Linked DNA regions of Homo sapiens: region 2 is linked to region 1. A link means that fine-mapping ties the variant in region 1 to the expression of a gene that starts in the linked region. Tissue or cell type: pancreatic islets. Region 1 holds a variant in brackets; the other region holds the start of a gene. All regions are shown on one strand. Distances are from middle to middle.

What was found. PIP is the estimated chance that this variant, and not a neighbour inherited with it, causes the effect.
Region 2: HRNR starts here. The variant in region 1 is fine-mapped to the expression of HRNR in pancreatic islets (van de Bunt 2015, PIP 0.95).

The regions. Positions count from the first base shown.
Region 1 is chr1:152,183,488-152,191,487 of GRCh38, forward strand. It overlaps CCDST (cervical cancer associated DHX9 suppressive transcript), which reads left to right and starts at 5,816. Exons shown (of 8, transcript NR_186765.1): 1 at 5,816-5,994. The variant C/T (reference allele first, on the strand shown) is at 3,810.
Region 2 is chr1:152,220,264-152,228,263 of GRCh38, forward strand. HRNR (hornerin) reads right to left here and starts at 3,930. Exons shown (of 3, transcript NM_001009931.3): 1 at 3,880-3,930; 2 at 2,853-3,015; 3 at 1-1,227. The coding sequence starts at 2,990. The region is part of intron 1 of CCDST (cervical cancer associated DHX9 suppressive transcript); the gene reads left to right.

The DNA of each region.
Region 1 (8,000 bases):
GCATGGTCTTGGCAGTGCCTTGGGAGTCAAAGGAGATTACCCATTTCTCCATACTAATCACAGGCTCATGGAGTTGCTCTGGAATTTGGCATTTCCAGTGTGTTTTGCTCTAGGCCCTTCCCCTGTGGTCTTCATTTTATGCCAAGTTTCATCTCCTACCATTATGACCAAAAGTGTAAATAAAAACGTATAGTTGCTCACCAGTTCCTAAAGAGACCCCTTTGCAGAGGTGTCTGAGATTTTTATTTCTCAGATCAGGGCCTAAGCTATGAAGGAAGTGAGTGGGAAGAGCCCCTATGTTAGAGACAAGGTGACAAAATAGCTGGCGAAGCTATTACCAGAGTAATTGGACCCGCAGGCTGGGTAGATTTGTGTTTGGTTGCTTTTTAGTTGTGACCTGGCATAGAAGGCAGTTCAGCACCTTGCTCAGAGCTGATACTCAGTGAAGATGTGTTGAACTGAGACCAGGGCAGCAGAATTGGCAAGATCATGTGCTCCCAGGGCATAAACCTACTTCAGGGTTGTATGTTTGTGTCTCCCCCAATGGTGGTGAAGCTGCTGTACTGTCATTGAACTGTGTATGGAGTAGGCACTTAATGGCTTCTAAAGTGGGCCTGGGGCCTGATGGTGTTCTGACTGCCTTCTATAGGAAGTGTAGGCTCCTAGGCTTTTTGACTGGACTGGCCTGAAAGTGGCAAGGTGGGAGGCAGGCTCCTATGGAACAAGATGGGACTGGTCCTGTCCTGGGAGGCTTGGTGCAAAGGACAATGGAAGCCAGCGTCTGGGAGGCCAGTGACTTATTGAATGATGTACACCAATAAGACCAGACAGAGGTACAGGAAGAATCTTCTCCAAGAGTCCTCACTGGTGCAGAGTGCTTTAGCACAGATGACTCCAGATGCCATTGCCTTTGAGCTGTCCTTGAGCTCATCTCGGGAACTCCTTTAGGAGGACTCTGAGTCTTAGGTATGAAGCTCTGTTTTTGTTCATTCAATGCAGGGAGATGGAAAAAAAGAGGAAACATGGGAACGATGGAGATGGGAGGGAAAGGGGAAGTAAGAGGAGAGAGCAAAAGGGGCAAAGAGGGGAGCAGAGAGATGGGGAGAGAGAGAGAAAGGTGGAGGGAAAGCAAGGGGAAGAGAAGAGATGAGAAGGGGATCTGATGACACCCTAGGGCAGCTATAGAGTCAGGGGAGGTCCAGGCTATGGAGGTTTCTGTACCCATGTCTCCCTTTGCTTTCTTAGTTTTGTTCAGCCTGAGCCTCATCCCAAGATCCAGGGTCCTGTGCCATGGATTATACCACCCATGTGTGTCTACACCCAGAGCCCGTATTGCCACTGAGGAGACAGACATATGCCATTTTTCAAAGTAGGAGCTCCTTAGGGTAGGGGGCAATGATCTAACATGAACATAAAATCCCACATACAGAATCCACACAAGCCTCTCAAATTTGTCACCACTGGGGCAAATTCAACAAGCATTCACTGTGTAAGCTGCCATGTGTAGTGCTGGGAGGAAAGCCAGAGTTCCTCCCTCAAGGAACTTATGATTTAGTGGTGGTGGGGTAGTGTGCCCTTGTGTAAGCAAGAGAAATACATAGGTGTAGTGCAAGTGTGAACATTCTTTGTGTCTAATGATGGACTCCATGCTATAAGTACTCAGTGTTTACCAAGAAGAAAGATGCATATAGTTACCTCTAGGTTTGTTAACAGCTAGATCTAAGACAGGGAAGAGAGGATGTTTGCATTTGGGATCCCTGCTCTGCACTGAATGCTGCCCAAACTACTTCTGTGCTCACCAGGAGAGGACCATTAAAGGCAAAGGGAAGAAATACATCTGGGCTTGCTGGTCTAAGCTGAGAATTTCAGGGCTGACATCTGAAGGCAGAGCCAAGAAAAACTTCTAAGCAGTGAAAAACGCCAAACCCTGGGCTTGAGCTTCAGGGAGACTGAGGGGCAATTTAAATCTCTTTTCTGGTGGAGTAGAGGATCCTTTTATGGTTGGGATGGCTCGTGTTATCCTTCAAGGAGGCAGAGGTATGATGGTATGTCAGGTTCCTCCTGGGCCTGATTCTTTCTTTGAAATTTGCTTCTTCTATCCCTGAGGCACTTTGGAGTTGAGACTGAATAATAACCAGCCACACAAACCTGGGTTCTACCACAGAGTTCATCGTTAACAAACCGCGTGCCCTTGGGCTGGTAACTTCTTTCTCAGTTAAAGTACCCATCTGTTGACTTAGGAGCCAGAGGGTGTGTGAGTGTCTGTAGACACCTGGTGGCAGTTTGGAGGAATTACGTTCAGTATCATCAGGGAGCAAATCCCTGTGCATGCTGTTCAGGAGTGTCCCAAGTGCCCAAAAGAGCTTCCTGGGTTTGGAAGCTGAACTAGTCAATCTGATATCAGTTTGAGGAGCTCATCCTGGGAAAAGAGTCCTGTTTTTAAAGTCATGTTTGTCCAGAAATTCGTCCTTGTTACTGGCCCAAATGTTTACATTTGATTTAATTTTACCATTCCCACGGCCTCTGCAATCAATTTCCTTTCTTGGTTCTATAGATTTTATTCTAGAGGCAAAGTCCTGGGGGATTTAGGAGTAACACAGTGTCTTACACACAATAGAAGTTTTATGGTGCTTACCAAGTGTCTTTCAAGTTCTTACTATTATCCCCATCTTGTAGATGGAAAAATTAGGGCACAGAGAGGTTAAACAACCTACCCAAGGCCACACAGCTAGTCAGGGACATCAGCAGGATTTGCACCCAGACAATTTAACTCCATAATCTCTACTTTTAACTTTCTTAACAACTGTTGACGGATGAACAGACGGGTGTAATTTGAGAGGCCCTGAAAAAGGTCTTACTCCAAAATATACTTTCCACTGAGGTAGTATAGTTATATAATGTCTACCATAAAGCACTGCCCTTTTTCTGTTTCTTATAGTGCTTTTTAAAGTATAAATAGCCTATGAAGGGTTATATTAGCCCTTTAGTGTGAATTTATTCATTAGATGTTTTATATTGTCTTGTTTAATAAGTGCTAGAAAGGGCTAGAAGGAATTACTGTGTTCTGCAAAGGGATCTCAGTAAACGGAACTGTTTTATTTCTTTGCCCTTGTTCTGAACTGTACTGAAAAATAGAAAGAAAATGTGGTGCTCAAAATGTCATCTTTTTTATTGATAGTGATTAAGTAAGACATTAGTAGCGCTAGGTCTGCTAGCTGGGGCTTGCTCATACTAGAACTGAGAATTAGGCTAACTTACCCACCTAATCATGACAGGCCTGGGCATCCTTGCCTAAGAGTAAGTCCCTATTATGCCATAGGGATCTCTGCAGTTCCCAAGTAGAAGCAGAGTAGAGCTAAGCCAATTATTCTTACAAAATTTACCAACCAGTTAAGTCCTTCTACCATCTCAGGGGCAAGGAGAAGAAAGGAGTGAAAAGAGGCCAGGAGTGGGGAAAAGGCGCTCACCTCTAGTAGAGACCTTAGACATCACCTAATCAAGCCTTCTCATCATACAGATACAATGGAATTCCAGAGAAGGGAAGGGACTTTGATAAACTAAGGTTGCGAGCTGTGAAGGGGTTGAGTCACGACACTGGATATGCTGATTTGGCTGCCAAGCTCCTTCAACATTCCACCACAATGCCCTTTTCCAGGAAGAGTGAGCAGTGGGAGTGCTTTAGAACCTGGCATCCAAGGGACCTGGTGGGAAGGGGGAGTGAAGAAGTAAAGCTACAGCAATATGCCCAGTGAATAGGTCCTAGGGTGAGCCCTCAGCACTTTGGATACTGGAGTCAAGCCCTCTTTCTT[C/T]TGCTGTCCTCCTTGAAGCTCCACTCAGTGTCAGAGAGGGAAGACTATTTAAGATCACCCACCATATTAGTAGGATTTCTCAGAAACAGAACCAACAGCATGTGTATTTATAGAAAGAGATTTATTACAAGGAATTGGCTGATGTGAATATGGAAGCTGGAGAGTCTAAAATCTGCAGTGTAGGACAGCAGGCTAGAAACTTGGGAGAGCTGATTATACACAATCCTAAGGCAGTCTGCTGGAGAATTTTCTCTTGCTCAGGGATGCTAGTCTTTTTGTTCTATTCAGGCCTTGAACTGATTGGATGAGGCCCACCCCATTAGGGAGGGCAATCTGCTTTACCCAAAGTTTACTGATTTAAATGTTAATCCCATCTAAAAATATCCTCTGAAATGTGAAAGGGAAGTTCACTATGCCAAAAGAAAAAAATTAAGCAGAAGGTAAGTCATGCAAGCAACGGCCTTTCCTTTTGTTCCTAGGCCCATAGCTACTGATAAAAGATTAAATATCTCCACTCTATGTTCACCCTACCTTGTGTAAAGCACCGATTTACTGAGCATGAGACGGAAACATAATTGACTATTCCCTTACCTTCTTCTCCTTTTATCTTGCAATATGTGGATTTAGTAATGTGACCCTACCCTCCCTATTTCTTCTCCACCCTGCTTTCACCCTTTAAATATTGAAGTCCTAAAAAATTATCATTGGGGAAAGCACAGACCTGTTTCTGGAGTGGTCCTTAACCTTGGCAAAATAAACTTCTAAGGTGATTTGAGACCCGTCTCAGATAATTTTTGGTTTACAAAATTCACACATAAAATTAACTACCACACCCGTTTTTTCCCTTGATTGACTCTGTGAGACTGAGTTTTCTCCTTTAGTCATCTGAGTACCACCTTCAAGATTTTTGCAATATCTGTGTATATATAATAATAATATTCTTATTTATTTATTTAGAGACAGAGTCTCGCTCTGTTGCCCAGGCTAGAGTGCAGTGGCGCGATCTCGGCTCACTGCAACCTCTGCCTCCAAGGTTCAGGAGATTCTCCTGCCTCAGCCTCCTTAGTAGCTGGGATTACAGGTGCGTGCCACTATGCCCGGCTAATTTTTGTATTTTTGGTAGAGACGGGGTTTCACCATGTTGGCCAGGCTGGTCTTGAACTGCTGACCTCATGTGATCCACCCACCTCGGCCTCCCAAAGTGCTGGGATTAGAGGCATGAGCCACAATGCCCGGCCTAATATTTTTGAACCAATGTTAACTACTCACTTAAGAATTTAGCCTTACACTAATATTTGAGATAACCGGTTTGTTGGGCTGGTTTTAGTATTTTCTAACACAAATAAGAATAAATACTCAAACATTCTTAAAAAGTGCATGTAGCACTTAAGACTATCTTGGTACTCCATTTGGGAAACCATGTAGCCAAGGCTGTTGGGGCGAACCAAGGTGGTGGGAGTCCGACGGGCCAGCAGGGGGCGCACTTGCAGGTCACCTGAAGTCCTTATTTACGGGATAAGGTGGAGGCTGAGGAAAGTCTTTCAGAGGCCGGACGCTGGCACTGGACGGAGTAGGGAACCCTAGCCGTTATCCCACCAAAGGGTCCCAGCGCCTAGAGGGGCTGCGGAAAGCTCCTACAATACGAGGAGCCCTTGGAGCCCAGAGCGGGATCCTGCGAGCCGAGGCCCCGTTCTCTGTTAGGATCACGGGGACTGCCCCAGGCAGCTGCTGGGCCCGGTCGCGGACCTCGGCCAGAACATCCTCCCAGAACACAGAGGAATCTGACATCAGTGGCCTCCCTTGGTAGAGGTGGGGAGCCGAGGGGCGGCAGTGTGGAAGGGCCATCGGCCTAGGTCTTTCGTATCCCCTCCGGCCTCTCGGGGCTGTGCGTTCGGAAACAGCGAAAGGAACGGCCTCAGGAATCTGGCCTCAGCCGGAGCACTGGTGAACACAGGCTCCCGTCGCGCCAAGGGAAGTAGGAAAAGCTGCTTCCGGGCGGAGGGGCTGCACTTCCGGGGCCCGCGTCCCCCGGCGGCTTCGCCGAGAAGGGGCTTTGGGAGCTTAAGGGCGCCGGCACGCGTTCCCCTGGCGCAGAGCTCGCTAGCCGGGGCGCGGGCTGCCTCCTTGTTCTGGTGTGATCCGAATGTAACGGAGCGGACTTTGGGATCCAGAACCCCGGACTGAGGTTGTGCTTGGCTTGAGGGGCGGGCTGGTAGGTCAGCCCCCTTGGGGCGTCGTTGGTCCTCTCCAGGCGTGTCACATTCTGCCCGCACATGGTGCCTTGGTACTCCCCAAAAGTCATGCCTTGATTTTTCTTACTAATAATAGTTTACACTGTTTTACCGCTTCACTGCTTCACGTAAGTAAAGTAATTATTTCAAAAGGAAATGTTGGTCATTTATAAAATGGTGGTAAAGATGGTACAGCGGATTAATGTGAGGATTAAATGAGATGATACATGAAAGTGCTTAAAACAGTACAGGGTACTTACCGTTATTATTGTTAAGTAGAAAGTGAGTTCTGGGAAACAGTGGGTGTATGGTCCTTCACAGCAGGTTTTGGAAACGTCTGATTTCCAGCCTACCCTCCTTCCTCCTGTTGCCGTCTGTTGCCTGATTGTTCTCACTGGCTGAAAGGAGATAATCCCTGCCACTCCATTCATCACTGAAAATTCTTGTCAGTTTGGTTGCTTAGGTACCTACTAAGAGTTGCCAGCAGGTGGCCCCAGAGCACGCGGTTATGTTTGTCTTTTTGGGTCCCATGTTTAATTAGTAATTTAGTAGGGACGTATTGAATACTTATTCCACACTATGGTACACTGTACCAGGGGATATAGGGATGCCTGAGGGTGTGGGAGGCCGACCCTGGTCTCAGGGAGAATATAAATGATTTATTATTCTGGTCTTTCACAAGATTTTGGCCTTTTTAAAGATCGATTCATGTATTCATTCAACAAATATTTATTGGATGTTTACTCTGTTCCAGTTTCCACTCAGAGATGTGAAGTATATCAATGAATAGAATAGACAAAGATCTTTGCCTTCATAGAGATCACATTCTAGCACACAACAATAAAGATAATAAATTATGTAAAATGTTAGAAGTGTTATGAAAAAGAAAAAATGTAGACCAGTGTTTGTGTGTGTGGGTAGGGTTGGTGGGATGGGCAGGTTGCAGTATGAAATAGAGTGGTTAGTATTAAATAGGCTTCATTAGGAAGGCAAGATTGAGCAAAGATTCAAAAGATGTGAGGAAATTAGTCAGATCTGGCGGGAAGTGTGTTCTAGATATGAAAAAATTGGAGTTATTACATTTACTCCTTTAAAGATGAGGTAATTGAGGTTCAGATAAGTAAAGTAACTTGTTTAGGGTCTCATAAGAGGTTTCTAACAAAACTGGTCTGGTTTCATGTCCTCATTTCCAGTCGTGTTCATTCACCAGATCACATTACCACTTGGTGTTTTTAGGGTGATGGAGACTTCACAATACATAACTTGCTTAAATCATGACTAAGGTTATCTTGGCATACTTCCCATCATTGGGTAATACCAAATTCTCTGTGATCTTTCTTTTTTTACATAATCAGTAAATATTTATTTTGCTAACTGGTGTGGAGGATAGAAATGAGGCATAAAGCCTGTCTCCTGCCCGTAAGGGACAAATAATCTATACATAACCATTTTGGCCTTCATCTCTTTTTCATCTACTTTCCCCATTTCCCCCAAGACAAGCCCACTGATAATCTGTACCTACAGCTTAGAATTAGGTCAGGTCCTTAAACTTGGTCACCCATTCTTGGTTTGTAGGTTCCAGAATTTCACTGGATTCCTTTTGCTGACAGTTGTTGTGCCTCTGGTTATCCCCCAAGTCTCTACTCCCTTTATCCTGTGTTGAACTTGTCTATGAGACTGAGCTTATGCTATGCTTTTCACTCCTCAATTAGATATCCCATCTGGATCCTTAGTTCCCCTCTAGAACTGCCTCCTTGTCTCTTGTAGTCTCAGTTGTTGATCTTTCCACTTGAGTGGAGACTTTGCATTGCTCCTATTTGGGAGTTGTGCCCCTTGTTCGCTGTGCTTGCTCCCCTTGAGCTGCCTCTCTGAGCCTGAGTCAGTTCTCTTCACCTCTGGCCCAGGGAACTCTGGACATGTGCCACACCCCTTTCCCTTCATGCCTACACTTGCTGGGAGG
Region 2 (8,000 bases), 37 kb after region 1:
ATATGGGCCACTGCTGGAAGATCGACCAAAGCCAGTCCCATGTTGGCCGGAGCTGGGAGACTGCCCTGACCCAGACCCACGCTGGCCGTGGCCTGGAGACTGGCCAGATCCAGAGCTGTGTTGGCCGCGGCCTGAAGAGTGACGGGAGGCAGACTCATGCTGACCATAGCTGGAAGACTGACGTGAGCTGGAGCCATGTTGGCCAGAGCTTGATGCCTGCCCTGACGTAGATCCATGTTGTCCCTGGCTAGAGGAGTGACCTGAGCCAGAACCATGCTTACTATAGCCAGAGGACTGTCCTGAGCCAGACTCATGTTGCCCAAAGCCAGAAGTCTGGCCTGAGCCAGACTCATAATGGCCACGGCTGTAAGAGTAACTTGAGCCAGACCCGTGTTGGCCGTGGCTGGAGGAGTGCCCCGAACCGGACCCATGTCGGACGTGGCTAGGAGACTGGCGAGATCCAGACCCTTGTCGGCCGTGGCCCAAAGACTGACGGGAACCAGACCCATGCTGACCATAGCTGGAAGACGAACCTGAGCTAGATCTGTGTCGTTCACCCCTAGATGACTGTCCTGACCTAGAGCCGTGTTGTCCGTAGCCAGAGGAGTGACCTGAGCCAGATCCATGCTGACTGTAACCAGAGGACTGCCCTGAGCTAGACTTGTGTTGACTAAAGCCAGAAGACTGGCCTGAGCCAGACCCATGTGTGTCATTGCTGGAAGACTGTCCGGAGCCAGAGCCGTGTTGGCCATAGTTGGGAGACTGCCCTGACCCAGACCCACATTGGCCGCGGCCTGAAGACTGATGGGAGTCGGAGTTTTGCTCACCATAGCTGGAAGACTGACCTGAGTAGGAGTTATGTTGGCCAGAAAAGTCTCTTTGAAAACTCAGTCTTCTGGATATGGATTCAGTCCCAGGTTTAAGACTTCCTCTGACGTTTCTGGAATAGGAATCATTCTCTCCTGCACTCCAACTTGAATGACTAAAAGAGGATTCTTGCCGTTTGTTCTCCTCTTTTTCAGTTTCTTCTTGTTCCTCTTGGTGCTGGTGAGTGTCATCTCTCAGCTTTGACCCTGAAACTTGGCAGTAATCTTTGCCAATGATTTTATTACGAGCCTGAACCAGCTTGAATATCATCAGAAGATACTCAGTAAAATCCACTTTCTTGTTATGGTCTCGATCCAGACTTTGCAAGATGATATCCACAGTATCTGGATCGTTTGGATTCTGTATAAGAGAAAGGTACAAAGAGTAGCTCTGTTAGTATGGACAATACATCTGGCTAACGAACTGAAGGAAAGATGTGAAAATGTAAATGTTTGGGTTATTTATATGGAACTCATTCACACAGTCCTTTAGGCTGCATTTCTGTATCCTGAGCAGAAAGAGAAAAAGGAATATGGAATGAATAATGTGGTGGGAAACAGCTAGAATAGGATGCAACTGGAAGATGAAAGGAAACAAGAGGGCTGATTATTTTTGGTAAAGAATGGGTCAAATATGAATGATTAGCTAATTTATAAGTAATATGTTTTTATACCTACATTAATTATATCAACTTTATTTATCCAATTAAATTAACTAGCTACTTAATTTACTCACTGAACAAAGATTTATTATTTTACTAGTTGCCTACCATTATGTCATATGAGAGTATAAAGAAGTGAACAAGTTTGCTTCCTGAAAAAAAATGGAATTTAAAGTTTAGTTGGCCAGATATACAAACTTAAAATTATAATTTATTGTGGTAAGGTTTCTACAAGAGTACATCAGAGAGGAAACATTGGGGGTCCTAGAAAGGTTAATGAGAGGAAATGATGCCTTTTGAAGGATGGATTAGGATTAGCCAAATGAAGAAGTAGGAAGAGAAAGAGAAGGGGAAAAGATTGTTCTAGGCAGAGGGAATTATATGAACAAAGGGCTAGAGGTGAGAGAAGTTATGGAGCATTCAAGGAACTGAAGGAAATTCAGGATTGCTAGATTTAGAGTTTGAAGAGTCAAGAAATGTGGATAGAGAGACAAATAGGGACTAGATTATGACTTTTAAGTTATGTTAAGGAACTTTGTACTTCATTTTAAGAGCAATTGGGAACTATTGAAGGATTTTTAGCTGAGGAGTGAAATGATTATATTTGCATCCAATGCTGAGAGTAGAAGTAGTAGGTGGCCTGAACCAGAGGACTAATAATAGTGATGAAGAGAAATGGGTTGTTTTGAGAGATTATTGATGAGTTAGATGGAGGTTAGAAGGTAGTGGTGTCTGCTGAGAGAGAGACAATAAAAAATGACACCAGGTTTTTGCTTTGGGCAAAAAGATGAAGGAAAAAGGTTAGTGGGGAAGATTATGAGATTCATAGCTGACACACTGAATATCTGACATCTGATATCTGAATATCATATCTGAAATCCACAGAAATCCAAATTTAAGGAATTGAAACTCAGGAGTCTGATATAAGGTCCCAAATATCTAAGCTATCAAATCTAGACCTGACAGTTTTAAGGTGGTGGACACATTCTTTTGTGATTCAGGAGTAAATGCCAATTTCCTGAACTCAGAAATCTACTTCACAGTTTTTCTGAGGACTGTCTGGGTTTGTAGGAATTAGTCACTTAGATAGGACATTATTTAACCTGTGGGTTTTGTTTGTTGTTTAGTAAGGTCACTTCCGTTAGTTATGCTATGGAAACCATCACGGATCTGCTTTTGACCTTATCTCAAACTTTTACCAAACCCTGTTCTCTCTCACCAAGTAAGGACAATCCTCTAGGATGTTTGACATATGTGACAAGAAGGTGGAAAGGGATAAAGAAGAAAATTCCTGCATAACTCCATCCTGGCGTGGAGTTCTTACCTTCAGAATTTGATGAAACTCATTTTCCAGAAGTTCTTTCAGCTCTGCCTTGTTCAACGTATCATACTCCCCATGCTGGGTGGCATATTGGTAGAAAACATCGATGACAGTGATGACGCCTTGTAGGAGTTTAGGCATTTTTTTTTTTGCAAGTTTGAGTAACCTAAAGGGAGGAAAAAGAGAGACCAACCCCTTACTATTCTTATTTCTTGTTTAAACACATAAATAGTTCTAATTATTTATAATAATTGTTCAGAATTAGTCAGTCATGATTAAATTCATTCTGTTGTAATCAAGAACCAATTCAGAGTTGAATGACTTGTTCAAGCCATGTAGCAAGAGAGTGATGAAATTAGGAATATAATCCATAGGTCTTATTTCCATTCCTGAATGAATGTAGGAAAAATGACTTTCTGTTTTTGGCTTCCTGCCATTACCAGGGATAATATTAGCTTTGTTCTGGAGCTGTAGAAGTCCTGAGTGTTCCACTTCATCTGCTTCCTCTTTCTAGGTTCGAAGCATACTGTGGGCATAGGTCCATCATCTACATGACATGCCTTACTCAACCTAAGGAGCATCAATGGCTGAACTGAACTCTCAAGACTTCTAGGTCAGAGAAAATAGACAATGTGAGCAAAGCCAACAAGCCTAGGTGATATGAAGCTAAGGGTAACTGCTATTAGATCCAGCTTCTGTTCTCATTCTCCAAGCAGGAAGTGACCCTCAGACCTTATTACACAATAGAGAGGAAAAGCTCAGTTGTAAAGAAGGCAACCTGCCTGTGGATAATTAGAACCCCATGATATCCATGTTATAAGGGAAGCGACCTCAAAGAAAGGAGATAATATACATAGTCCTAGTCTTTGTTTCATTTTTCTTTTCAGTAAATTTAAACTTATACCAAAGTTCCCCAGAGTATACTAAAAAGAAGCCTTGTATCTAGTGCCTCTTTGCCTTAGAGCACATCCTGGACTTTCATAATTTATAGCCCTAAGTACCCTTGAGCGGAGTTGAACTGCTCACTTACCTAGCTCACCAGAGGAACAAGTAGGGTAGAGACAGAAACAGCTTTCAGGGTGCTGCGAGTTGGGCAGAGTGGCCTTTTTATAGAGGGAATAATGGTCCCTCTTAGGGAGGAGTTGCTAATTTTGAGATGTCCTAATTTACTCCTAAACAAGCCCATCTCCACCTCTATCTCCACCTCCCAGGTGTTTACCTTCTTCCTGACTTCCTTACAGGTTCACCTAAGATTGCATTAGCAGTTCCCAAATCTGGGCTACTCTCAGCCCCACCTGCCAAAGGGTCAGGACACTGCAGAAAGGCCTGTTTTTGTATTCATCAAACTATCTAGCACAATATATTGACAACAAATTGTGTGGATTTTAATAGAAGTTGAATGGAGTGTGTGCAGGGACATCATGGCCCAAATGTCAAAAAATCATGGAAATTGATGATTAAAAGGACTGTAAAGATCATCTAGTCAAACTCTCCCATTCTAAGCTAAATGTTCTTAAATGGTATTCCAGCCAAAGTGTCATCTTTGGTATTGTTATTACCTTTTGAATTGGATAATGGCTCCAGGCCATCCTTTAACTCATTAAGTACCTCAATTTACCAGACCCCTTATTGGCCATTCATCACCATAGCTTTCATTTCAAACACCATATAACCTTAGGAAGAAATGCGTGCTTGTTAGCATGGTATCCATGGTTCCTCATGATCTGGGCTGTGGCTTTTTTCCAGCTCCATTTCTCCCCTCCATATTTCTCTTTGTACTCCAACAGTAATTAACTAGTAATATTTCAAACTTCCTCAATATACCATGGGATATGTTATTTCATATTTTTTCTTAGAATGTCTTTCCTCATTGTCTGCCTAGTGAACTAATTATTCTTCAAAATCCAATTTAGGCTTCCCATAGAAAATCTTTCCTGAATTACTCAAGAGGGAGTTGTAATTGTGTACCTTATTCATATTTATTGTTGTATCAATCATACTATATTGTAATCTTTAAAAATTGTTTTACTATACAATTATTGTTTAATATAAAAATTAGAAAATATTGATAAGCAAATAAGATAAAATCAAAATACCTTTAAAGCCACTAGCCAAAAATAACTACTGTTAGTTATTTGTTGTATATCCTTGCCTTTCACAAACACACACATTCACACACAGACACACACATTTGTCTATGGGCTTATTTCATTTCTAGGCTATGAGCTCCTTGAGAATAAGGAATGGACATTATTTATCCTTATGTCATTTGGAGACCTAGTATACTGCTTGTCACATAACGGTCTCCAATAAATGTCAGTTTGAATTCATTTGAAAGAGAAGCAAGGATCAAGACTATAGTCCTCTGCATTGGCCAACTTCCATCTTTTCACAGGAGGACTAGGGTCTGCCCTCTCTCTTGCCATCTTTGCCTCAGAGGACATGATTTTACCTGAATATAAACGGAATCTTAGCATTGAGAATCAATGAGTGGCTTTCTGCTTTTTTCTGAGGCCCTCGCTCTGCATTTCTTCCATTGTGAACATATAACACAAATTTCACTGAAGGTGTGTGAAGTTACATGGACTTAAAACTTGTGCAATATGGTCATCAGGATTTGAGAAGGTGTGGTAGCAACTGTTGGCAAGTGATAAATTACATGATTCCAAATTCAACTATTGTTAGGCTATGTGTTTTCTTTTAAGAATTGCCCAGAGGGCTGCAGAGTCAGTATCCATTCTGTAGCCGTGTTTCCTCTGGACATCTGATTGGGCCAGGTTTTCATGCTTCATCAGAACAATGACTTTTTAAAGGTGTGGCTGAGACTGTGGGAGTAAAGGGGGGTGGAATTTGCTGAGTGAAGACTGATTTCCTGCAGGAACCAGCTGTTGTCACGAAGGGAGGAGAGGGTTGTGAGAGAAGACTATTCCAGGTGAACGTGCTCTTGGGGCTAGTGTTCTCCTGAAATAGGGGCCAGCAAACTTTTTTTTTTGTAAAGGGCCAGATGGTACAAAATATTATCTCTGCAGGACAGATAGTTTTTGTTGCAACTACTCAACTCTGCTATTGTAGCATAAAAGCAGCCATAGATGATATGTAAACAAATGAGCATGGCTATGTTTCAGTAAAACTTATTTATCAATACTGATCTTTGAATGTCATATAATTTCACATATCATATATTTTTTCAACCGCTTACAAATGTAGAAAACCTTTTTATCCTGTAGGCTACACAAAAATGGATGACAAGCTAGCTATGAACTGCAGGCTGTAGTTTACCACTCTTTGCTCCTCTTCTGTATTTGCTTTTCAGGAAGATTCTCTGGGAGAGGAGGATCTGAGAGAAAAGAAGGGCTGAAAAGTGTGGGACATCAGAACCACTAACTCTTGCATGAGAGAACAAGAGTGAAGGTGAATTTGTAAATATCAGCATGTGTGGGGTGGTGGGGAAAGGGAACAGAACAAGGGACCTTTGGCTGCTCGTAAAAGGGAGATAAATTTTGATTTGATGTAAGGGAGAAATATTTAATATTTGCATTGACTGAAAATGCAGTGAGCTCTTTGTGAAGTAACTGAATTTATTGTCAAGTATCATATGAATAGTTTTTTACTATTAAAGAAAAAATTAATTCTTTCATTACGTTGTTTTCTGGATATGCTCACCAACTAGAATTTTGTTGGGCTTTTTTTCCTCGTTTGTATCATGAAAATAAGAAGCATATTACATATGCGTCTTGGTCTCTTCTCTCCCCATTGAGAATTACTTATTAAGAGTAGGACTAGATTATCACAAAAGTCACTTTCAAAACAGTTTCTTGTTTTTTTTAGAGTGTGTGCTCCATAGTAACAGAGTTGGACATGAAGATTCCTCCATCATGGGTTTGGTTAGTGGTTTTTCCACTTGGAGATGATAGGTTTCAGGAGAAAAGCTTTTCTATGGTATGTGCCATGTTCTAGGTTTTTGAGTGCCTTTCTCTGTGTGTTGGCAGAAGAATGAAAATTACATTCCTTTTTATGACAAGCACAGTGCTTTGTGTGTGGGTGTACATTGTTTCATTAATTCTTACAACAACCCTGTTATCTAGATATTATATTTCCATTTTGCAGATGAGAAAACTGAGGCTCAGATGAAATCTGTAACTTGTTTCAAGTCACTTAGCTGTTAAGTGGAGAAGACAGAATTCAAATTCAAATCTGCTTTTTCCTAGGAATAGTCAGCAAGTAGGGAAATATTCATGTCTTGGTAAAGGAAGGGTTTTGGAAACAGTTCTTCAGGAATGGAGTGTTTCACCTAGGAAAAACAAACAAACAAAACTAGCAAGGATAAACAGTGAAGTTCCAGTACCATCTGTGTGCACTCATTTTTTTCTGCCTGTCTGGAAGGCAGAGTAATGTGCCTATTGCACCATCTGCTGGGTCATAGGGAAATTCTAAAGCAGATCTTTTCTTCATTGCCTTTTCTGCCCTTTTTCCTTACAGAAATTATTTCATGGAATTTCTATAGTTCTTTGTAGCCTAGTCTCTATAAATGAGGAGACTATGTAAAAAATAGGGGTATGTATATAAGAGAAGGTTGATGGTCATGATTTTGGGTAAATGGAATCAAAAGAAGTTAGCTATAATATGAAACTGGTTAAATAGTGCTTCCTTCTATATCCTCTTTTGAGTCCTTTTTACTGTTATCTCAAAAAATAAAAAATGGATTCGATATAATTTTACAGCTTAGTATATATTCCCTGGGGATGAGACAGGCATGGTGACATATCTTTCAGCTTCAGACCCACACCCTGGAATATATTCTGCTTCAGTACTGGTCTGCCTATTGAGTTGTTTCTTTCTCCCTTAATATCCTCCATTTTCTCTTCCGAGAACTCCAAAATGCTTCAAATGCTGGGAATCCAGAGCTCATTCATACATGTATCCTTTTATTTATTCCATCAGTATCTTTCTCTAATATATATATATATATATATATATATATATATATATATATGAGAAAAAAATATATATATAGTTTTTTTTTTTGGGTCTCACTGTTGCCCAGGCTAAAGTGCAGTGGTGCAACCATGGCTCACTGCAGCTTCCAACTCCAGGGCCCAAGTGATCCTCCCACTTTAGCTTCCCGAGTAGCTGAGATTATAGGTGTATGCC